Regions from separate parts of the Homo sapiens genome. Here all the other regions are linked to region 2. Evidence: fine-mapped expression QTL. A gene starts in region 2. Each other region holds a variant in brackets. All regions are shown on one strand. Distances are between the middles of the regions.

The links. PIP is the estimated chance that this variant, and not a neighbour inherited with it, causes the effect.
Region 1: its variant is the best candidate, but not a certain one, in a credible set for the expression of NASP in whole blood (TOPMed, PIP 0.53).
Region 3: its variant is the best candidate, but not a certain one, in a credible set for the expression of NASP in monocytes after LPS (Fairfax 2014, PIP 0.57).

Annotation. Positions count from the first base shown.
Region 1 is chr1:45,616,624-45,624,801 of GRCh38, forward strand. It overlaps NASP (nuclear autoantigenic sperm protein), which reads left to right. Exons shown (of 15, transcript NM_002482.4): 13 at 3-80; 14 at 840-968; 15 at 1,438-2,270. The coding sequence ends at 1,518. It overlaps CCDC17 (coiled-coil domain containing 17), which reads right to left and starts at 7,431. Exons shown (of 13, transcript NM_001114938.3): 1 at 7,113-7,431; 2 at 6,934-7,029; 3 at 6,594-6,816; 4 at 6,332-6,494; 5 at 6,128-6,211; 6 at 5,926-6,044; 7 at 5,618-5,725; 8 at 5,254-5,372; 9 at 5,015-5,112; 10 at 4,658-4,861; 11 at 4,280-4,490; 12 at 4,100-4,210; 13 at 3,421-3,810. The coding sequence starts at 7,286. The coding sequence ends at 3,652. The variant C/T (reference allele first, on the strand shown) is at 4,034.
Region 2 is chr1:45,578,963-45,587,140 of GRCh38, forward strand. NASP (nuclear autoantigenic sperm protein) reads left to right here and starts at 5,079. Exons shown (of 15, transcript NM_002482.4): 1 at 5,079-5,243. The coding sequence starts at 5,185. RefSeq lists enhancers at 3,695-3,744, 4,155-4,214, 4,665-4,974 and silencers at 4,505-4,564, 5,475-5,774.
Region 3 is chr1:45,528,926-45,537,103 of GRCh38, forward strand. It overlaps the pseudogene HMGB1P48. Among named protein-coding and RNA genes, the nearest start is that of PRDX1, 11 kb to the left of the region's middle. The variant G/A (reference allele first, on the strand shown) is at 3,560.

The DNA.
Region 1 (8,178 bases), 38 kb after region 2:
AGATTGCCAGTAGAAAGCCAACAGACGGTGCTTCCTCATCAAATTGTGTGACTGATATTTCCCACCTTGTCAGAAAGAAGGTAAGTCTACATGTGGTGTTTCTTTTCTACCGTTTCCTCAGACTCCATTTTTAATCCCTTTCCTATAAACCCCTCCCTATAGTTGGTGCATATAAGACACTTATTTTCCAAAGGTGGTAAGGATTTGTGAGTGGAGACTGTTGTGTTTTGTTTTGTTTTGAGACGGAGTCTTGCTCTGTCACCCAGGCTGGAGTGCAGTGGCGCAGTCTCGGCTCACTGAAACCTCTGCCCCCCGGGTTCAAGTGATTCTCCTGCCTCAGCTTCCCAAGTAGCTGGGATTACAGGCGCCCGCCACCACGCCTGGCTAGTTTTTGTATTTTTAGTAGAGACTGGGTTTTGCCATACTGACCAGGCTGGTCTTGAACTGCTGACCTCGTGATCCACCCACCTCGGCATCCCAAAGTGCTGGGATTATAAGCGTGAGCCACTGCCCTCAGCCAGGGAACTCTGAACTCCTGTTCTGTTTCCTGACTCAAACACAGGAATTCAAACTTGTACAGTGATTACCATTCACATCTCCTCACCCCAACCCTATCTCCCTGTGCTTCCGGTAGAGGGGCCTGAAGTGATATGGTGGGACAGATTAATACATTCTGAGAGTACAGGTTGGCATCTGCCTGTGGCTAGGGAGAGAGACCCTTAGAGCTGTGAATCCTGATGTTCAGGATCTTTGCACCACAAGGGTTAAGGAAATGTTTTGCAGTTGTCTTTTTAAAAACATTAAGCACATTTGTGAAGCCTTCACAATTATATCTTTAGAGGAAACCAGAGGAAGAGAGTCCCCGGAAAGATGATGCAAAGAAAGCCAAACAAGAGCCGGAGGTGAACGGAGGCAGTGGGGATGCTGTCCCCAGTGGAAATGAAGTTTCGGAAAACATGGAGGAGGAGGTGGGCAGTTAAGCAGGGCTTAGCCTCTTGCCTCATTCCTTGTTCTCAGGACCTGGGGAAATCAGTCCTCTCAAGTGCATGCTCCCCACCTTGAGCCTGCTAACGATTGTTGAGTGCAGTCCTCACAGAAAACGGTACTTGTGCAGGAAAACAGTTTGGTTATGGGAGTATAGGATGACTCACTGACAAATGGAACCTGTATATTATAGGTCCCTCGATGAATATATGAGAAGGCACTTGATGGGCAAAACCATTAGGTCACTTCCTTCCACGTGATGATTATTGGCTCTGTCAGCCCCATTATCACAGAGTATTCAAGAAATACTTTGTGGTCACTGCCCTCTTAATATAGGGAGCAAAGCAGAGTTTGGGTGACTTGTATATGCTTCCTATGACTGAGGCCTCAGTTATATAAGACAGAATGGCTTAAACTAGGCTCACTCATGCCCAGGTTCTGTTTGTCTTCCAGGCTGAGAATCAGGCTGAAAGCCGGGCAGCAGTGGAGGGGACAGTGGAGGCTGGAGCTACAGTTGAAAGCACTGCATGTTAAGAGGGGGCACAGCCCTCCTCCCAAGGGAAAGTGTTTTTGTATATAATGTATTTTTTCACTTTTGGAGGATTCTTTTTGTATAACTTCAATAAAGATTGTAAGCAAAGGTTGAGGCTTTGATGGTTTTTTTCTTAATTATTGGCTGAATCTGCCTTGGAGCACTGCTGGTTTTATATATTAGCCAAAGGTTTTGTTCTGGCCTTCTGTACTGATCTGTGTTCCTGATCCTAATTCCTATCTGTCTAACGTGGAGGTGATCAAGTGTGGCTGTAGGCCTTTGTTTTCCAATGGTGCTATATTCTGTTTTCAAACACTTCACTGAACCCAGCTGTCTTGCAAACTTTCAGTGGTGCTGTCCCTGGATGGGGGCTACAAAAACAAGAATTGGTGAAGATCTTGCTCTTCAGTGCTGAAAATGGATGATGGACTTTGGCTGTGAGCCAGGCCTAGGATGGTTCTTGTCCTATATCCACCTAGTCTTCACCTGGGGCTATAATTCTGTCCTGGAAAAAGAACTCTGAAAACCTGGGTCAGGGGAATGATTCCTAAGGAAAACGGTCTGCATTTGAGCTCTGGTTTGAAAGTAGCCAAGGGGACTGATGGTGGACACTCCAGATGTGGTTGGAAGCATATGTGGGGAGGCTGGCTGGTTGAGTTTTGTTATTTTCTGTATAGAAAGGTTGAGATATATCAACACTTGGAATTGTTACCCATCTGCAGAATTGACTTCTCAAATAAAGATGCTAAAAATCTCCTTGTCTGGAATTATGTTTAAAGATCTTAAGTGGGGTCTTAGGCTGCTTTTTTGAGATGGGATCTTGCTCTTGTCGCCCAGGCTGGAGTGCAGTGGCGTGATCTCGGCTCACTGCAACCTCTGTCTCCTGGGTTCAAGAGATTATCCTGCCTCAGGAGGCTCCCAAGTAGCCAGCACTACAGGCTAATTTTTGTATTTTTGGTGGAGACGAGGTTTCACCATGTTGGCCAGGCTGGTCTCGAACTCCTGACCTAAAGTGATCTGCCCACTTTGGCCTCAGGAAGTGTTAGGATTACAGGCGTGAGCCACTTCACCTGACTGCCTGGAGCATTTCTGTGTGCGATAGAGGGTTTCAAAGGCAGAAACGAGCCCACCAGTCCAAGGATGCTGGTGGTGAGGGCACTAGTATTAATGTTAGACCTGTTGTGCTCTCACTGGTGTCTAGGGGTCAGGGCTCACTTGAGACTGAACTGCCTCTGACCTGACTCTAAGTACCAGTTAGGATCTGAATTCCAAACAATGCCTGCCCTATATCACCACCTCAATTTAGTAGTCATGACACCCATAGGGCTGCTTTTGTTGCACTGGAGGCAGAGGAAGCGATGGCCGGCCCCTAAATTCAACCCAATTTTTCAGACTAAGTAAGTTTTTCTGGGCTGGTCACAGTAACTCATGGTTGCAGGATCTCTGGCTTATCCTGGCTGTGGAGTTTCTTCCTGATGTTGCCCTTGCAGTATATGTTCCAGGTCCTGAGGCGCTTTGCCCCCTTTTCTTGGTCAGGACAGTCACGATGTAGTTTACTCCCAGGCACTTGACCTTCTCTGGTTGGCACTGGGATCTAGGGCTAGGCACAGTATCTAAGCTAGATCTCACATGTGACCCCTGGTTGGGGGAACAACCTTGGGCTGGGGACCTATCCCAGAATCAAAGTACATAAGGCCTCAGGAGCTTCCTGTTTATGGGTACATTGAGAACCTGAAAGGTTTCCTGGCAGAAATACTGAGGAAACGGATTTAAGTTTGGCAATAAAACTGGCTTTACCAAAAAAAGCAGTGGGAACTAGTGGGAATTTAAAGTTGCTTTAGTGGGAATTAATGCCCCCTAGTCACCTTTCGGAGAACTTCATAAGTGCCAGACAATATCACAAATACCTGACAAACTCATTTAATCCTTAATCTGTTTTACAAAAACAGAAGAGGTACAGAAAAGTTAAGGACTTAACGGGAGGTGGTAAAGCTGTGGTTGGAACTGGTTTTCTGTACTCAACTGCTAGATGCTTCTAGACCCAATGTCAGAACATGGAGTAGTAAACCTGTAGGTCTGGAAATAGGCCCCAGTCCTGTGCATGTTCAGATGCTCATCTCCACATTCACTTGGGTTCAGAAACTCACTGGGGGCAAGTCAGAACTGTGGTGAGGGCCCAAACCCTCATCTCTATCCTTGACTCCACTGAGGGGCTCTTCTGTACGAGGTGGGGGATCAGCAAAGCCAACTGCGGGGGTGAGGAAGCTGGCTTCCAGTGAAGATGTGCTGGACACCTGTGGAACAGGAGAAGGCAGGTTTTGAGCAAAAATGTAAAGGTTAAGCACACAGGTTTTGGAGTTAGTTAGGCTTCCTTAGAGTCTCACTTACTGTGAACCAAGTTAACCTGCTCCTGCTTTGATTTCCTTATCTGTTACATAGTAGGACTTCATAGAGATGTGAGGATCAAACAAGAAAGCATTGGTAATGACTGGCACACAGTGGTCAATAAAGGCTGGC[C/T]GTTAGCCATACCAGCCACACCGGTATGTGTAGCTGTGGTGTCCCTAGCTGCAGCTGGGCCCTCACCGGAGGTGGGTACTGGTACTCATGGACACTTGCTGGATTGATCTCTGCCAGTGTCTGTACAGCTGCATCTCTTGCATTCACCAGCCGCAGAAAGAGCTCAGCCTGACCTGCCTGGGGAGAGATGAAATGGTATTGCACTTGTACTTTGCTGTATGCCCAATCCCTGCGCACCACACTCACCTGAGGAATCCCATTCAGCTGCCCAAGGCTAAGGCTGGGGTCCAGAGGAAGGGCCCGAAGTGGGAGGCGCCAGCGGCCACTTAGCACCCGCTGATCTTGGTCAAATAGTCCAAGTGAGACCCAAGCCTTTGGCTGTGGTGCCCTAGCCCATGCTAGCCCCTGCCAGACCTGCAGCTCACAGACCAAAGATACTGATGATGAGGGTGGTAGTCTGTAGAATAACCAAAAAGCAGTGTCGGAAGCCAGAGCTACAGTCCCTTTCTAGGACTTAGCCCTTTAGAGCCAGCGGCCTCTGTATACAGATGAGAAAACTTAGCAGAATGGTGGATAAGCCTCAACTGTGGCAGAGTACCAGAGTCATGATCCCCACCTACTGACCTGGGCACAGGCTGCCTGCTGGCAAGGATGGCACAGTTGCCCATGGGCCCGGGAGCAGGAGGTGGGGGCAGGCAAAGGGCTGGGGGCAACGCTGTGGTCCTTCCTGTATCCCGTCCATCGCGTGCCAAGCCAGTCCTTAGTTGCACCCAAATCCAGGAAGCCTCAAGGCCCCGCAGGAAATCATAGAAAATGACCAGGCCAGCCCTGGGGAACACAAGTCTTAGCACAGAAATACCCAACTCCTTTCAACCTCCCTCCTCTCAGGCAGGTCCCTAACCCTATCTGGTCCTAGTGGGCTCCCTTAACCAGCAGTGCTGGCCAAGTCACAGAGGCTGTCGAAGGTGGCACGGGCCTCACCCAGGATCATAGGGTGCAGGGCCCAGCATGTCCGATGTGGGCAGGAGGAAGTGTGAGTCCAGGCCCAGGTTTCTGGTCATTGTTCCAGGAAGCTGTGGCTGTGGGGAAGAGAGCTGACTCCTCCAGAAAGCCTTGTAGCTGCTCATGTTCCCCCAACTGCTCAGAGCAGAGCTGCCTCCAACCTGTTCCCCCAACCCACCCCGTGTCCTCACAGCCTTTGCCCCACCCAAGAACTGAACCTCCGAGAAGCCTGGAAGTGGTGGCAGCGGTGGTGCCACCGGTGGCGGGAGGAGTGGGGGATCTCTCCTCCCCTTCGGTTGTAGGCTGGCATCCCCCAGGAGTCGCAGATCCTGGGGCCCTAGGAGCAGAAGAGTTAGGGTGCCCCTAAGTTGGACAAAGCAGGTAATTAGCTGAGATACCCCTCCCCCAAGAGTTGGGCCCACAAATGGGTTGGCGGAGCCCTGTGGATACAGGGATACACACGTGCAGACATGAACTAGGGGAGTCACAAACACGGGTCTTGTTCCCCATGCACTGTCTGCCTGAGCCAGGCCTGCTGGGGAGAGATAAGTGGGATGGGATAGGGTTGGGGTGCTCACTGACCCAAGGGTGCCCGACCCCTCTGCATTTGCAAGGCCAAGATTTCTGCCTCCAAGCGCCGGTTTTCAGCCTCCACTACTGGAAGCTCCCCTGAGGTGGCACCTGCCCTTCCTGCGATGAACAAGTGTGACCTGTCACCTTTGACCTCTGGTGACTGGCCGCGTCCGGCTGTGAGCAGCTCTCCAGCGCTAAGGCTCTTCGGATAAGGCTGGACTTGTCAGCTCACATGCCATCCACAGCCACAGGCCCTCCCTCGAGTTCTTTTCTCCTCCCAGGACTGACCACCGCTGGCGAGAGGCCCTCCTGTTCACCTCTGCGGGTCTGCGACCGCTGCAGCTCCAGTGCAGACGCCTCCACCTGCAACTGCCATATCTGGCCCAGCACGCCGGGGTCCCGGCCCCCGTCTCGAATGTAGGCCTCCCGCAGCGCCCTAGGGAGTGGGGAACAGGAAGGCCGTCTTTCCAGAACTGCTCAGCGCTTCGCCCTATGCCCATCTCCGGCCCCGGCTCTCACCGGATTTCGGCAGCCAGAGTTCCCGGGTTGGCCTTTTGCACTGGAGAATAAAGTTCTGCCTCTCGCCGGGAGCTCAGCGGGTTCCTGGGGTGGCAGGCGACGCGCAGGGAGACGGTAACGCATCAGAGGCCCCGGGGCTGCAGCCAGCCCGCCCCTCCCACCCCGGAGCCGCATGTTCCGGGGATCCGCTTAGTCGGGTCTCACCCTGGCTCCGCCTGCAGCTCCTGAATGCGGGCCCCCAACACCTCTAGAGCTCCCCGCGTCCTCCCGGCCTCAGCTTGTAGTTCTCGAATCTCCTGCTCCAGGCCGAAGAGGCGGGACATCCCGCCCCGCGTACAGGCCACAACTTGGAGGCGTCGGCTCAGTTCTGAGGGAATGCGGGCCGAGTCAGAACCGGCCCGAGCAAGCTTAAGCCAAACGGCGAGGGCAGAGGAGGTCCTTGGTCCCCGTCCCCCATCTCCTTCACCCTCGCCGCGTAGCTGCAGGGCCCGGCTCTGCGCTTCCATCTCCGCCACGCGCCTCGCGCGAGTCCTGAACAGCGCCCGCAGCCGCTCGCTGGGGCTTCCCACCGCCTCGGACATGGGACTCTGAGGCCGCGCCTCGGAACGTGTCCAGGGCCCCGCGAACACCCTGGGGACCTCTGTTATCCAGGGCCGCATTTCCTGTAGGGATAGCCGCAGCCACTGCACCTGGAGGTAACAGCGATCCGCGATCTCTGCGTGGGCAGAATCTGTCCCAAGTATGATCTACAGGTTTGGGGAAGACGCTCAACGTTTTGAGCCCTGGGGGAAGGTAGGTAGCTCTACCTCCTCTGTTAACCTCTTTAGAGCAGATCTACTGGCCTGCTGGTCTGGGAGGCCCTGGGGTTCTTGTGGCACGCCCTGGTGTTCTTGTGGCACAACCTGGGGATAGGGTGTAGTAGGATGAGGAATCATAAAGGTCCTGGCTCCTTTGAATCCCCACCCATGGCCATGGAGGCCCTTACCGCGGCCCGCTGGGGTTCAGTGGCAACTGATGCCTGTGCTCCAAATGTCATCTCTTGGGTCGGGTGGCCAATGCAGAAGCGCTGAGTATGGGTGGCTAACAGAGCTGAGGAGCGGAAAACCATGTCACAGGTCCCACAGGGCAGGAGCGCAGGCTCCCCAGAGTGGGAGTCCATGGGATGGGACCCGTTTCCTGAAACCAGCCAAGACCTGCAGAAGGGATCAAGGGCAGGGGAAAGGCAGAGGAGGATGAAAGAGACATAAAGCCAGAGGCAGAGAGGAAAGGCCGTGTCTATTAGGTCTGTGAGATCTTCAAGTTTGTTTGGGGAGAGCCTTAGCTCCCTGGACAGCAACCACAGGGCTGGGCAGGTCAGGAGAATGGGTGGGGAAACCTCGGCCGTTTGGGAGGAGCCACTGGCTTGAAAAAGTGTTACAAAGTCTGAACGTGGGCAAGTCTCTAATTGTAGCTTGGTTTCCCTGACTATTAATAAAGAGGAAAAAGCAGCTGCCTCCTAGACTAGGCTGGGCCCTTATCACTTACTACATCATTGGTCATTTAATAGCCTCTAAAAGGCAAGTGTCATCTTTTTCATTGCTGTACTCCCAAGTGGATGTAACAGTTTGTACCATTCTCCAATCCAGAGAACTACCTGGCAAAGGAGGCACTCTGACCTTTCCAGCATTCTGCCTGGAAACCATGTCGCACCAGGGATAGCAGTCTCCCTAACTCCCATTCCCTGATTCCTCATTTTTCAGCTGTAGACGAAGATAATCAGCACAGCCCAAGAAATGAAAGCTGTGGGCGAACAGAATGAATCTATCAGATGAGGGAATCAAGTCCAGAAAAAAACCCCTTCTCTCTCCCAAGATTGGCCAGAAGCCAGAAAGACCCTGAACTGTTGGTGAAATTCTTCACTCCACTCCCACTCCCAAAATATATGGAGGAGCTCTGAGGTGACCGCATATTTCTTAAGAAACCCTCTTTACTTTTTTTTTTTTCTTTTTGAGATGGAGTCTCGCTGTCGCCCAGGCCGAAGTGCAGTGGCGCGATCTCAGCTCACTGCAATG
Region 2 (8,178 bases):
TAAATTATTTATTTTGCCAAAATAATGACTCAGAAACATAAAAAGAAAAAAAAAAAACCTTTTATAAGCCTTTACAAATTTTGCCAAAGAGCAGATTAGTGCCTTAAGAGTACCTTATTGTGCTTTTATTTCAATGTTCAATTTACAGAAAAATCATACAATACACTTTTGAATTTAGTCAATATGTTCACACAGATAATTTCTTTGCAAGATTAATTTTTTTTTTTTTGAGATGGAGATGGAGTCTCACTCTATCACCCAGGCTAGAGTGCAGTGGCATGATTCCAGCTCACTGCAACCTCTGTCTCACGGTTCAAGCAATTCTTGTGTCTCAGAGTCCCGAGTAGCTGGGACTACAGGTGCCTGCCACAATGCCAAGCTAATTTTTGTATTTTTAGTAGAGACCAAAAAGCAGTTTATAACCATAAAACATTTAGCCAACCTGGTATCTGACCTGCATAATTTAGTCCAACTATTTTTTTTTTTTTTAAGACAAAGTTTTGCTTTGTTGCCCAGGATGCAGTGCAGTGGCACGATCTCGACTCACTGCAACCTCTGCCTCCTGGATTCAAGCAATTCTCCTGCCTCAGCCTCCTAAGTAGCTGGGACTACAGGAGCACGCCACCATGCCCAGCTAATTTTTTGTATTTTAGTAGAGATGGGGTTTCACCCTGATGCCCAGGCTGGTCTTGAACTCCTGAGCTCAGGCAATCCGCTCACCTCAGCCTCCCAAAGTGCTGGGATTACAGGCGTGAGCCACTGCACTCGGCCCAGTCCACTTATTTATATTTTGATGACATTGGCTTTTTACCAATAATCTTTAAGGCTGTTTTCATTTCTCAAAGATTAAAGTCAGGTGAACTGAAAAGTATCACAGGTTTTATCTTTCCTTTTATTTTTTTTGAGATGGAGTTTCGCTCTTGTTATCCAGGCTTGAGTGCAATGGCACAATCTCAGCTCACCGCAACCTCCACCTCCCAGGTTCAACTGAGTCTCCTGCCTCAGCTTCCCAAGTAGCTGGGATTACAGGCATGGGCCACCAAGCCTGGCTAATTTTGTATTTTTAGTAGAGATGGGGTATGTCCATGTTGGTCAGGCTGGTCTCGAACTCCTGACTTCAGGTGATCCGCCCGCCTTGGCTTCCCAAAGTGCTGGGATTACAGGCGTGAGCCACCACACCCAGCCTATCTTCCCTTTAATAAATATTTGATCCAAGTGCTTATCTTCCTTTAGGCCAATTAATTAGAGCTATTTCTATAGACGTCACACACAACACGTATATAACTCCACGGACAGGCAGAAGAAAACCCAGCCCCCACAAGATCCTTCATTTGCCAATCTCCTATTTGGACCATTGGCCTTTGAGGACTTTTAATTCCTGGGGTTACATGAGGAAAACAGGCCGGGCATGGTGGCTTATGCCTGTAATCCTAGCACTTTGGGAGGCCAAGGTGGGTGGATCAGCTGAGGTCGGGAGTTCAAGACCAGCCTGGCCAACGTGGTGAAACCCCATCTCTACGAAAACTACAAAAATTAGCTGTGCACGGTGGTGCTCGCCTGTAATGCTAGCTACTCAGGAGGCTGAGGCAGGATAATCACTTGAACCCAGGAGGTGGAGATTGCAGTGAGCTGAGATCATGACAGCACACTCCAGCCTGGGCGACAGAGTGAGACTCTGTCTCAAAAAAAATTTAAAAAGTACATGGATTTAAAATATACTTATTTTTTAAAATTTTTATTTTTTGTTTTTTTGAGATGGAATCTCACTCTGTTGCCCAGGCTGGAGTGCAGTGGTGCAATCTCGACTCACTGCAACCTCCGCCTCCTAGGTTCAAGCGATTCTCCTGCCTTAGCCTCCTGAGTAGCTAGGATTATAGGCGCCCACCACCATGCCCGGCTAATTTTTGTACTTTTAGTAGAGACGGGGTTTCACCATGTTGGCCAGGCTGGTCTCAAACTCCTGACCTCAGGTGATCTGCCTGCCTCGGCCTCTCAAAGTGCTGGGATTACAGGCGTGAGCCACCCTGCCTGGCCTTATTTTTATTTATTTATTATTTATTTATTTTTGAGACAGAGTCTCACTCTGTCACCCAGGCTGGAGTACAGTGGTGCGATCTCAGCTCACTGCAACCTCCACCTCCTGGGTTTAAGTGATTCTCCTGCCTCAGCCTCCTGAGTAGCTGGGACTACAGGCCCCCACCACCATGTCCGGCTAATTTTTGAATTTTTAGTAGAGATGGGTTTTTACCATGTTGGCTAGGATGGTCTTGATCTCCTGACCGTGTGATGCACCCGCCTTGGCCTCCCAAAGTGTTGGGATTACAGGCGTGAGCCACTGTGCCCAGCTATTCATTTTATTTTATTTATTTATTTTTTGAGATGAAGTCTCGCTCTGTTGCCAGGCTGGAGTGCAGTTGCACGATGTCGGCTCACTGCAAACTGCCTCCCAGGTTCAAGCGATTCTCCTGCCTCAGCCTCCCGAAGTAGCTGAGATTTCAGGCGCCTGCCACCACGCCTGCCTAATTTTTGTATTTTTAGTAGAGATGGGGTTTCACCAGGGGATCCAGGCTGGTCTCAAACTCCTGACCTCAGGTGATCTGCCCGCCTCGGCCTCCCAAAGTGCTGGGATTACAGGAGTGAGCCACCGCGCCCGGCCTGCATCCAGCTATTTATTTTTTTTTGAGATGGAGACTCACCATCGCCCAGGCTGGAGTGTAGTAGTGCAATCTCAGCTCACTGCAACCTCCAACTCCTGGGTTCAAGTGGGTCTCTTGCCTCAGCCTCCCAAGTAGCTGGGATTACAGGAGCCTGCCACCACTCCCGGCTAATTTTTGTATTTTTAGTAGAGATGGTGTTTCACTATGTTCGCTAAGCTGGTCTCGAACTCCTGACTTCAAGTGATCCGCCTGCCTCAGCCTCCCAAAGTGCTGGGATAACAGGCACCTGCTACCACGCCCAGCCTAAAATATATTTTAAAATATATTTCTCTGAGTTCCTCAAGGTAGAGTCCATGTCTTTTGTCCCCAGAACCTAGTACAAAGTCTTGTACCTCAAAGTTGCTCAGTGAATATTAATTTAATGGATGAATCGGTCACACCAGTAATTGCAGAGGTTTTCTCAGGCCCTAGCCCTGGCTGCAAGGACTTTGGAGAGATCTCCCCTCCCAACACCCTCCATTTACCACATCATCAGACTGTGGTAGCCATTCAATGAGTGCTTAGCGTGAATTCTACACAGTGCTAATTACCTGTAATTCTCACAATGTCCTTAAGCGGTGGCTACTAATATGTCTTCATTTTACACTTAACCTTAATCCCAGCTACTCGATTACAATCCGGGTTACGTGACCTGGCTCACGTCACCTAGCTAATAATGGAAGAGCCCATGTATGTTTGCCATAGGAATTGGCATTTTCACGTCCAGCTCTCTAGCCCCAAAGATTTCAACCTCTTCGAGCCTTGACAGATTGGAATAAGAATCCTCTCCAGGAATCTTTCCCAATATGCTGGAACCTAAAGGGAAATAAAAACCCCTACTCCGATCAGCGTAGACTGGGCCATGGTGAAAAGGAATGGATGATACTCCAGGTGTGAGGAATTGCAGCTTTTTAGCCTGCCAGTTATTTTTCACTCAGCCATTTGCAGGAAATGAGGCACACTGCTTTCCATAACTGATTTGTCTTGCAACTTTCTGAACAAGTCACAGCTTCCCCTTTTTTTTTTTTTTGAGACGGAGTCTCGCTCTGTTGCCCAGGCTGCAGTGCAGTGGCGAGATCTCGGCTCACTGCAACCTTTGCCTCCCGGGTTCAAGTGATTCTCCTGCCTTAGCCTCCCGAGTAGCTGGGATTACAGGAGCCTGCCACCACACCTGGCTAATTTTCGTATTTTTAGTAGAGACGGGGTTTCACCATGTTGGCCAGGTTGGAACCTTGGCCTATTTATTTATTTATTTTTGAGACGGAGTTTCGCTCTGTTGCCCAGGCTGGAGTGCAGTGGCGAGCTCTCGGCTCACTGCAACCTCTGCCTTCCGGGTTCTAGTATTCTCCTACCTCAGCCTCCCGAGTAGCTGGGATTACAGGCGCCCGCCACCACGCCCGGCTAATTTTTGTATTTTTTAGTAGAGACGGGGGGGTCTCACCATCTTGGCCAGGCTGGTCTTGAACTCCTGACCTCGTGATCCACCAGCCTAGGCCTCCCAAAGTGCTGGGATTACAGGCGTGAGCCACCGCGTCCGGCCCCTTGGTTTATTTTTCTAAGAAACAGACTAACACTGATCTCACTAGTAGCATTGTTAATATTAAACAAGATAGCTAATAGCTTTAAAGCGTCTAATCACGGTACCCCCACGAGTAGTAGTCACACAGCAAATCATAGGCAGGAGTGGACAAACAGCGCTGGGAGCATTAATTCTGGTAGATTTGGAGTCTGGGCAGGGCCTAAGAGGATGGGATCAGCGGATTGGGCCAGCCAAAGGGGGCGGGTTCAGAGGGAGGAGCCAGCTGCCTCCCGCTGCAAGCCCCGAGCTTTGAATCAAGCGCGGTAGTTTCAGCTGTAGCCAATCCTAGAACAAAATCTTTTTGCGTCAGTTGTTGCTGAGGCCTAGATCTCACCCAGATCAGTTCTAGTCGCTGCTGCTTGTACCCGTCCTCGGCCCTTGCGTGTCCGTCCGTTACGACTCAGAGGACGGAGAGAAAGTCTAAGTCACCTTCCTCAGTATCCAGGCCGGAAGGAGACTCTCAGCTACTCGCCCTGAACATGCAGAGCAGCACTGGCTTCCCTGTCTCTGGATGCCGCAGGGGCGTCCTGTCAGGAGTTGTAGTGTCAAGATTCCAGTTCTTCTTATGCGACTTGCTGGAGAAGCAGGAAGTTGCTGTTTATTGGAGAAGTCGGGCTAGGGAGGGAAACAATCCCGCGGAGCCATATGGAGAGGGCAGGAGGTGTCTAGATAGTGGTAGGCCGGCGGGGGACGGAGGGTATGGGTGGTGAGTCCTGGCCCTTTAAACCCGAGGGGGAGGATCCGGAAGTGGATGGGCGGGGCGAAGGGTCCTCGTATATAAAAGGGCCCCGGCCGCGCGGGGTCTCTAATCTGCCATTTTCTGTCCCTGAGTGAGTCTCTGGCGTCCCAAATTGCCTGTTTTTCTCGCAGGCTCTATTCCGTTCGCTGGTTCGCCACCTCAGGGGAACGATGGCCATGGAGTCCACAGCCACTGCCGCCGTCGCCGCGGAGCTGGTTTCTGCCGACAAGTAAGCGGGACTGTGGAAAGCTTAAGGCACTGGCCAGTCCGCGGGGAGGGCTAATGGACGGGGGCTCCGGAGAAGGGGCAGACCGGTGGGCGGGAGTACTTGCCTTCCCAAGAGCAGCTGTCGCTGTTCGGGAAGGCCTGGTCACTGGAGCAGTCCTTCTTTTGCTGAGAGCCTCGCGCAGCAGCGGTAACGGCGGTCGGCTGGCGCCCCCTGCCCCGCTTTTCGCGGCCGCCATCTTGCCGGGGGCAGCGGCGGCTGTATCCTTCGCCTGCCCCTCTCCTTCCTCCCCCAGCCCGGGGCGGTTGGCCGGGAGGCGGGGCCCTGGCGCGCGGGTTGGCCTTCACGCCCCTTCTGTCCCCAGCGTGTGCCTCTGGTAGAACCCCTGGATAACCCGGGAATATAACCAACGAAGATTTGGCGCCAAAAGGGAAAAAAAACCTTGCACGAGGAAGGAGGCTGGACCTGAGGGGTCGGGGTGGGCGGGGCCTTGCTGAGGGCGGGGTTTTGCGCGCGTGCGTTCGCTTCCCTCGCCGGCCCTGGGGCAGGGGGCGGGGCCTTGAGGAGGCGGGAAAACTCCATTGTTTGGGGCCGCTGCGGCTCCAGCAGGAGCTTTGGACTATCTCCGTGGGGCCGGCGAGGCTAGTTCCCCCCGACACCTCGCTCACGTCTTGTGCTGGGAGATAGTTATCGCTCCCCGCGACTCCGTGAGCCCCTGCCTGTGGTGGGGAGGATTGTCGTTCTTTAGACTTTGGAGGTGGTGTCTGTTTGGGGGGAACATTACCGGACGTAAAGCGTCTTCAGGAAGCGCTGTCTGGAGCTCTCACCAGCACTGTTTGGTTGCTAGGTGAATCGGCAGTAGTATGCACGAAGTGGAGAAGGACTGGAGGGAAACAAGATAGGATTGTTTTGAAAGCGGCACAGTGCCACTCAGGCGTAATCTGTTTTTTGAACAGTGGAGGGAAACACTACACGAGTTCAAGGAAACAAGTGCTGTTTCCCATACAGTAGGTCTGATTTCCCAATCTTGCCATATTTTTTTAGGCATCTGGTTCTATTTTTTTTTCTAATCTTGTGCGCTTTAGAGGTTAGTTGCCTTCCCTGTAAAAGGAATGGTTGCTGTGAAGTTTTTTAAATTGATATTCTATAGGCTTACACTCTGTCATGATTATGTCTTTGTTTGTTTATAGTTAGAGATTTACGTATATCTCTGCTTACCACCTTTTCTCTCTGCGTTCTTGTAGAGCAGTGGTTCTCAAGTCACCCTGAGAATCATTTGGGAACTCATGGGAAATACAATTTTAATTTCAAACTCCCATTACCTGCCTCTTTCCCCATTGATTCGATATAAGCAGTATAGATTGGGCTTGGGAGTCGTGCTATAGCTATTATAAAAAGAGCTGCTTTTTATAATGTTTCCTAGACAGCTCTAGCAGTCAGTATTTCACTGACAGCTGTGTGTTTTTGTTTTGTTTTTGCAGACAGGGTCTGGATCTCACATCCAGACTGGAGTGTAGTGTTGTGATCATAGCTCACTGCAACCTCGAACTCCTGGGCACAACTGATCTTCCCTAGTAGCTTGGGACTACAGGTGTGCCACTACACCTGGCCAATTTTTTGTAGATACAAGGTCTTAATGTTGCCCAGGTTGGTCTCAGACTCTTGGACTCAAGCAGTCCTCCCGCCTTGGCCTCCCAAAGTGTTGAGGTTACAGGCGTGAGGCACGGCGCAGGGCCAGGTGTTTTTGTTTTTGTTTTTTGAGGTAGAAGTATGCAACAAATACCTCTTGCAGGTCCCCTGTGTCTAGCCAGAGTTAGGTCATTAGTGAATTTAGTTTCCTGGCAGGTTATACATAGAGAAAGTTTATGTATATGTGGCTAGAAGAAAGCAAACCATTTAGTTCCTCACAGCATAAATTGAAAGCTAAAACTGAGCAATTATATGTGCTGGGTGTGTGGGGGTGGGGGGGCAGGGTCTCTGTCACCCAGGTTGGAGTGCAGTGATGCCATCTCGGCCCCCTGCAGCCCCTACCGTGCCGTGTGTGTGTGTGTGTGTGTGTGTGTGTGTGTGTGTGTGTGTGTGGTGTGTGTGTGTGTGTGTGTGTGTGGTGTGTGTGTGTGTCACCCAGGCTGGAGTGCAGTGATGCCATCTCGGCCCACAGCAGCCCCTACCTCCTGGCCTCAAGTGATTGTCCGGCCTCAGCCTCCCGAGTAGCTGGGACTGCAGGCGCACACCACAAGGCCCAGCTGATTCTAGTATTTATTTTGTAAAGACGAGTTTTTGCCATGTTGCCCAGGCTGGTCTCCCAACGCCTAGGCTCAAGGGATCCACCCACGTGGGCCTCTCAAAGTGCTGAGATTACCGGCGTGAGCCACCAAGCCTGGCTAGTATTTTCATTTTCATTTTCATTCTTCGTTTCCCCATCTAATTAGTGTGAGAGAACATGAAAGCAGTGTGTCTCAGTTAAGTAAGTTAGTGGGGACACTTAGAGGTAAAGTTTATAAGGTCCTCATGTTTAAGGGTAGGATAAAGAAAATGACTTGAATTTAGACTTTAGGTAAGAATGTACATTATAATTCGAGGATGACCATTGAAAGAATAAATATAACTTCCAAACCAGTAGAAAGAAAAAAAATGGAATGAGAAATAAACCTCAGTTCAGGTTTTTTAAATTTAGGAGATGAGGATCTTACTATGTTGCCCAGGCTGGATTCCCAACTCCTAGTCTCAAGCAATCCTTCCATCTCAGCCTTCTGGGTAGCTGGGACTACAGGCATGCATCACCTCGCCTGGCTTAGAATTGGCTTTGATAGCAGCTTCATTGCTTCAGTAGTGATATTGGACCACAGTTTTGTCGTCTGCAAAAAGTCTTAGGTTGGCTTTTGTCCCCTCGTGCCATTAAAGCAGTATTGTTTAAGGTGATGTATATCTACATGCT
Region 3 (8,178 bases), 50 kb before region 2:
ATCCTCCATATGCTGAACGCTGGTCCCCTGGGTCCCCTTATTTCTTTCTCTATACTTTGTCTCTGTGTCTTTTTCTTTTCCAAGTCTCTCGTTCCACCTAACAAGAAACACCCACAGGTGTGGAGGGGCAACCCACCCCTTCACCATCTCCACAAAAAATAAAAAATTAGCCCAGTGTGGTGGTGTGTGCCTGTGGTCCTAACTAGTCCAGAGGCTGAGGTGGGAGGATTGCTTGAGTCCCAGAGCTCGAGGCTGCAGTGAGCCGAGATGGCACCACTGTACTCCAGCCTGGGTGACAGAGTGAGCAGAGTGAGACCCTGTCTCAAAAAATAATAAAATAAAATAATGGGAACCCAAATCACAAGACAGCACTCATTTTTCTTTTATTTATTTTATTTTTTTTGAGACAGAGTCTTGCTCTGCTGCCCAGACTGGAGTGCAGCAGCATGGTTTCGGCTCACTGCAACCTCCACCTCCTGGGTTCAAGTGATTCTTGTGCCTCAGCCTCCCAAGTAGCTGGAATTACAGGTATGTGCCACCATGCCTGACTGATTTTTGTATTTTTAATAGAGACAGGGTTACGCCATGTTGTCCAGTCTGGTTTCGAACTCCTGGTCTCAAGGGATTCACCCATCTCGGCCTCTCAAAGTACTGGGATTACAGGCTGAGTCACCACTACCGGGCTTATTTTTCATACAGATGATTTAGAATATGTTTATGTTAAATTTTTTTAGATTATCACTAAAAGAAAACAGTTGAATTCTTCAATTTACAAGGATTCAATTTTTAAAATTATATTTGAATGTACAGAGGCCTACAAATACCAATTTCAGAAACACTGTTATCAAGGATATCTATTTGTTAAAATTGAATGCAACTGAAAGTAACAGATTAACTGCAAATAACAAGCTTAACCAAATAGGGGATTAATTTTTCCCATTTAACAAGGAGACAGGGCCGGGCACAGTGGCTCACGCCTGTAATCCCAGCACTTTGGGAGGTCGAGGCGGGTGGATCACTTGAGGTTGGGAGCTCAAGACCAGCCTGACCAACATGGAGAAACCCCGTGTCTACGAAAAATACAAAATTAGCCGGACGTGATGGTACATGCCTGTAATCTCAACTACTCGGGAGGCTGAGGCAGGAGAATGGCTTGAACCTGGGAGGTGGAGGTTGCAGTGAGCCAAGATCGCGCCATTTGCATTCCAGCCTGGGCAACAAGACGAGCTCCGTCTCAAAAAAAAAAAAAAAAAAAAAAAAGCAAGTAGACAGGGCCAGGTGGAGTGGCTCATGGTTGTAATCCCAGCATTTTGGGAGGCCGAGATGAGAGGATCATTTGAGCTCAGGAGTTGGAGACCAGCCTGGGCGACATAGGGGTACCCATCTCTACAAAAAATTAAACAAACAAACAAAAAATAGCCAAACATGATGACGCATGCCTGTAGTCCCAGCTACCCAGGAGGCTGAGATGAGAGAATTGATTGAATCTAGGGGGTTTAGGCCACAGTGAGCCATGAATGCACCACTGCACTCCAGCCTGAGCAACAGAGCAAGACCCTGCCTCAACAAAAAAAAAGCAAAACAAAATGATAAAAAGCAAGTAAGGCAGGGCACAGTGGCTCACGCCTGTAATCCTAGCACTTTGGGAGGCCGAGGCAGGCAGATTACTTGAGGTCAGGAGTTCTAAACCAGCGTGGCCAACATGGTGAAACTTCGTCTCTACTAAAAATACAAAAAAAATAGCCAGGCGTGGTGGTGGACACCTGTAATCCCAGCTACTCTGGAGGCTGAGGCAGGATAATCGCTTAAACCCGGGAGGCGATCATGCCACTGCACTCCAGACTGGGCTACAGAGCAAGGCTCTGTCTCAAAAAAAAAAAAAAAAAAAAGAAGTAGACAGCTGTTACAGTATGTTAAGCTCCATAGAGACAGCACCAGGGCAAGTGAGAGCCTGACAGGCACAGGGTGACTCTGTGCCTCACTGAGGAAAAATAACTAGACATGAGCAAAGGAGATCCTCAGAAACCTAGAGGCAAAATGTCATCATATGCATTTTTCGTGCAAAACTTGTCGGGAGGAACATAAGCACCCAGAGGCTTCAGTCAGCTTCTCAGAGTTTTTTTTTTTTTTTTTTTAGATGGAGTCTTGCTCCCATCGCGCAGGCTGAAGTGCAGTGGCGCGATCTTGGCTCACTGCAACCTCTGCCTCCCGGGTTCAAGTGATTCTCCTGCCTCAGCCTCCTGAGTAGCTGGGATTACAGGTGTGCGCCACCATGCCTGGCTAATTTTTGTATTTTTAGTAGAGACAGGGTTTTTGCCATGTTGGCCAGGCTGGTCTCGAACTCCTGACCTCAGGTGATCCACCCGACTCAGCCTCCCAAAGTGCTAGGATTATAGGCGTGAGCCACCACGCCCAGCCAGCATTTTCTAAGAGTGCTCAGAGAGGTAGAAAACTGTATCTGCTAAAGAGAAAGGAAAATTTGAAGACATGGCAAAGGTGGACAAGGCCCGTTATAAAAAAGAAATGAAAACCTATGTCCCCCGTAAAGGGGAGATAAAAAGAAGTTCAAAGATCCCAGTGCATCCAAAAGGCCTCCTGTAGCCTTTTTGTCTTTCTGTTCTGAGTATTGCCCAAAAATCAAAGAACACCCAGGCCTATTCATTGGTGATGTTGCAAAGAAATTGGGAGAGATGTGGAATAACACTGCTGCAGTCGGGCATGGTGTCTCACGCCTGTAATCCCAGTACTTTGGGAGGCCGAGGTGGGCAGATCACGAGGTCAGGAGTTCGAGACCATCCTGGCCAACATGGTGAAGCCCTGTCTGTACTAAAAATACAAAAATTGGCCACTCGTGGTGGTGCACGCCTGTAATCCCAACTACTCGGGAGGCTGAGGCAGGAGAATCGCTTGAACCCGAGAGGCGGAGGTTGCAGTGAGCAGAGATCGCACCATTGCACTCCAGCCTGGGCAATAGAGTGAGACTCTGTCTCAAAAAACAATGACCAAAAAAACACTGCTGTGGATGGCAAGTAGCCTTATGAAAAGAAGGCTGAGAAGCTAAAGGAAAAATAGGAAATGGAAATTGTTGCATATCAAGCTAAAGGAAAGCCTGATATAGCAAAAAAGGGAGTCGTCAAGGCTGAAAAAACGAAAGAGAAAGAAGGAAGAGGAGAAAGATGAGGAAGATGAGGAGGAGGAAGATGAAGATGATTAATAAGTTGGTTCTATCACATTTTTTTTTCTGTCTAAAAAGCATTTAACCCTTCTGTATACAAATTACTCCCTTTAAAGAAAAAATTGATGCCGGGCGCGGTGGCTCATGCCTGTCTGTAATCCCAACACTTTGGGAGGCCAAAGTGGGCAGATCACCTGAGGTCAGGAGTTCAAGACCAGCCTGGCCAAAATGGCGAAACCCCATCTCTACAAAAATACAAAAATTAGCTGGGCATGGTGGTGTGTGCCTGCAATCCCAGGTACTCGGGAGGCTGAGTCATGAGAATCACTTGAATCCGGGAGGCAGAGATTGCAGTGAGCTGAGATCGCGCCATTGCACTCCAGC[G/A]TAGGCGACAGAGCGAGACTTCATCTCAAAAAAAAAAAAAAAAAGAAAAAAATTGAAAAGTAAGGCTGTGTAGGATTTGTTTTTAAACTATACAGTGTCTTTTTTGTATAGTTAACACACTACTAAATGTGTCTTTACACATTATCTTTTAGTTTTTCTAGAGACGGAGTCTTGCTCTGTTGCCCAGGCTGGAGTGCAGTGGCACCATCATAGCTCACTGCAGCCTGGAATTCTTGGGCTCAAGCAATCCTCTTACCTCAGGCTCCTGAGTAGCTGGGACTATAGATGGGTGCCACCACGCCTGGCTAATTTGAAAAAAAAATTTTTTTTTTTTGAGATGGAGTTTTGCTCTTGTTGCCCGGGCTGGAGTCCAGTGTCACCATCTCTGCTCACTGCAACCTCCGCCTCCAGAGTTCAAGCAATCCTCCTGTCTCAACCTTCTGAGAAATTGGGATTACAGGAGCTCGCCACCACACCAGGCTAATTTTTTGTATCTTTAGTAGAGATGGGGTTTCACCATATTGGCCAGGCTGGTCTCGAACTCCTGACCTCAGGTGGTCCGCCTGCCTTGGTCTCCCAAAGTGCTGGGCACCACGCCCGACCTAAAACATTTTTTTTTGTTGGCCAGGAGCGGTGGCTCACACCTGTAATCCCAGCACTTTGGGAGGCTGAGGTGGGTGGATCGTGAGGTCAGGAGATGGAGACCATCCTGGCTAACACAGTGAAACCCCGTCTCTACTAAAAATACAAAAAATTAGCTTGGCGTGATGGCAGGCGCCTGTAGTCCCAGCTACTCGGGAGGCTGAGGCAGGAGAATGGCGTGAACCCGGGAGGCGGATCTTGCAGTGAGCTGAGATTGCGCCACTGCACTCCAGCCTGGGTGACAGAGTGAGACTCTGTCTCAAAAAAAAAAAAAAAATTTTTTTTTGTTGTTTAGACAGAGACTCTTTATGTTGCCCAGACTTGTCTTCAATTCCTGGGCTCAAGCAGTCCTCCTCCTTTGGCCTCCCAAAGTGCTGTGACTATAGTTTTTTGATTAGAAAAAAAAAAAATACAAGTTAAAAACTGGTATGATCACTCCACACTGTATCAGGAACTCAGCTCACTGCAACCTCCAACTCCCTGGTTCAAGCGATTCTCCGGCCTCAGCCTCCCAAGTAGCTGGGACTACAGGCACGCACTGCCATGAGCAGCTAATTTTTGTATATTTAGTATAGATGGGGTTTCACCATGTTGGTCAGGATGGTCTCGATCTCCTGACCTCATGATCTGCCCGCCTCGGCCTCCCAAAGTTCTGGGATTACAGCCGTGAGTCTGGCCTACTTTTATTCTTATGATAACCCTATGGTCACAAAATGTCTGCTCTACTTCCAGCCTGGACAACATAGTAAGACCCAGTCTCCAAAAAAAAAATTTTTTAATTCATTTAAAAAATAAAAAATAAATGTATTTAAGTTGCTCTTTACCTGTCTTTTTTTTTAAGAGATGAGGTCTCACTATATTGCCCAGGCTGGTCTTGAAATCCTGGGCTCAAGAGATTCTCCCACCTTGGCCTCCCAAAGTGCTGGGATTACAGGTGTGAACTGCTACTCCCAGCCTACCTAATCTTTATTTGAACTTTTCTTTTCTTTTCTTTTTGAGATGGCATCTTGCTCTGTTGACCAGGCCAGAGTGCAGTGGCGCAATCTCAGCTCACTGCAACTTCTGCCTGCCAGGTTCAAGCAATTCTCCTGCCTCGGCCTCCCGAGTAGCTGGGATCACAGGCATGCACCACCACGCCTGGCTAATTTTTGTATTTTTAGTTGAGACAGGGTTTCGCCATGTTGGCCAGGCTGGTCTCTAATTCCTGACCTCAGGTGGGGACCTCTTGGCCTCCCAAAGTGCTAGGATTACATGCATGAGCCACCACGCCTGGCCTTTTTTTTGAGACGGAGTCTTGCTCTGTCACCCAGGCTGGAGTGCAGTGGCTCAATCTTGGTTCACTGTAAACCTCTGCCTCCCAGGTTCAAGCAATTCTCCAACCTCAGCCTCCCGAGTAGCTGGAATGATAGGTGCCTGCCGCCACTCCTGGCTAATGTATTTTTAGTAGAGACAGGGTTTCACCATACTGGTCAGGCTTGTCTCGAACTCCTGAGCTCAGGTGATTCACCCGCCTCGACCTCCCAAAGTGCTGGGATTATAAGCCACCGCACCCGGCTTTTTTTTTTTTTTTTGAGAGATGAAGTGGGCTGTGAGTGCTGGCTCATGCCTATAGTTGCAGCATTTTCGGGGTGCTAAGGCAGTAGAATCACTTGAGCCTAGGAATTCAAGACCAGCCTGGGCAACATGGTAAGACCCCATCTCTACAAAAATTAAAAATTAGCTATGTGTGGTGGTAGGTACCTGTAGTCCCAGGAACTTGGGAGGCTGAGGTGGGAGGATTGCTTGAGCCTTGGAGGGTGAGGCTTTAGTGAGCTGTGATCATGCCACTGCAGTCCAGCCTGGGCAACAGAGTGAGACCCTGTCTCCAAAAACAACCAAAAAAAGGAGAGATGGGGTCTTGCTCTGTCATCCTGGCTGGAGTGCAGTGGCTGATGATGGGTCACTGCCGCCTTAAACTCCCCAGCCCAAGTGAATTCTCCCGCCTAAGCCTCCTGAATAGCTGAGATTACAGGAGTATGCCACCATGCCAGGCTTGAACTTGTTTCTGGGTTTACATTGACTTCCACTCATTATTTTATTTTTTATTTTTACAAATCTGACATTTCAATTTTTTTTTTTTTTTTGAGGCAGAATTTTGCTCTGTTGCCAGGCTGAAGTGCAGTGGCACAATCTTGGTTCACTGCCACCTCCGCCTCTGGGGTTCAAGCGATTCTCCTGCCTCAGCCTCCCGAGTAGCTGGGACTACAGGCATGTGTCACCATGCCCAGCTAATTTTTGTATTTTTAGTGGAGACAGGGTTTCACCATGTTGGCCAAGATGGTCTCGATCTCTTGACTTCGTGATCTGCCCACCTCGGCCTCCCAAAGTGCTAGGATTACAGGCGTGAGCCACTGCACCCAGCCTCAATTCTTATATTTTCTATCAGATATCAACCTTAAATTCAAGTATGATTTGATAATTGTTCTTCTATTGCTGTCCTGGTTAATACTATGCTGCTTTTCATTATTAAATAAGGCACCCATTTAGGATATTGAACGCTATGGATTTTAGCTTCAAGTTTTCATTTTCCCAGAAGATGAAACTAGAGACATAAAATATTGATTTTTCTTCTTTTCTTCCCTCTTCTTTCCCCTCCAATTTTAGGGGATCAAGAATGAATGTAGAGATATAGTCCAGACCAGAGCAGTAAAGGGAACATGTCCAAATTGGATCAATCATGAAGCCAACTTGGAATACTAAAGTTGGTTTTTATCTCTAGCTACCTGATGCTTCAGCAACTGATTAATTCTCAGATTCTTTTTTTTAGAACCAAGTCTCTGTAAGTAGAAGCACTTTTCGGTTATTTCTTAATCTCAACACTATTGGCATTTTAGGTTTGATAATTCTTTGTTATGGAGGGACCGTCCTATGTGTAATAGGATGTTTAGCAGTATCCTGGCCTCTTCCCTCTAGATGCCAGTAGCACCCCCCACACACGGTGCCAACTGTCTCCCCAGGTTGAGAACCGCTGAGTTAGAGAAGGTCAAAAAAATGACTAGAGGACTCCTAGTTTATCTAACCTTCTGACCTATTTGTCCTGTTTGTCCTGGCTGGCAGGGTCAGCTCTGCCTAGAGGCAGGGGAAAAATCTTTTACTTCTTTCATGTATTCATACGTTACTTCTAGCTATCCATCCTGGCCAAAGCTTCCAGAAATTAGGAAGCTTGCTTGCCAAAAGCACTGCAATTAGGAGAGTGATGATGTCGGGACTAGAAAGACTCACACCCACTGTAATCTGTCTTCATATTGCTCTTGAGTGCCACTCTGCCCAAAATTTATCATGTTGACAAATGACAAAAGGCTCTGAAAAAGCATACACATGAAAAAGGAGAGCTTTACCTCTAGGCAAGAATGCTTCACTCTGATTAATTCCTACCCCCAACCACACCCCTCACCACAAGATAGAATCTTGTCTTTTGTGAGGTCTTAGTCATGTTCCTTTGGCCCACTGCAGGCCATAATTCTGCAACTAGAGACATCTCTAATTCTCTCCTTCCACCTTCCCCTAGAGAAATGTCAGGCCTGACAGATGGACCCTAGTTTGAGATCTCTATGACCAGAGTGGGTTCTGAGGCAGGACCAACCCTTACGGTTGAGCAGTCTGAGCATCTGACAAAAGGGAATAGTGGGTGGTCTGGTAACCTGCCCCTAACCTGCTCATCAGAGATGGTTTGCTGAACCAGGAGAAAGCTTGGCCCTTTCTAATTATAAAATAAAACAATTTCACTCAGTATATGTTTCAAACCAGAAGATTTATCTCCCCTCTTTTCTTCTTTAACTTAAACAGCCCCATTTCCCCAGCTGCTCCTTAACTGACCTGCTTTCCAAACCCCTGCTGATATCTTCCTATAGCATTTAGCTTAGTATCAAGTTCAACCTCCTTCCTTAGCTTGACACACGAGGCTCTCTACCCTCTGACCCCTTGTCACTCCTCCCTCA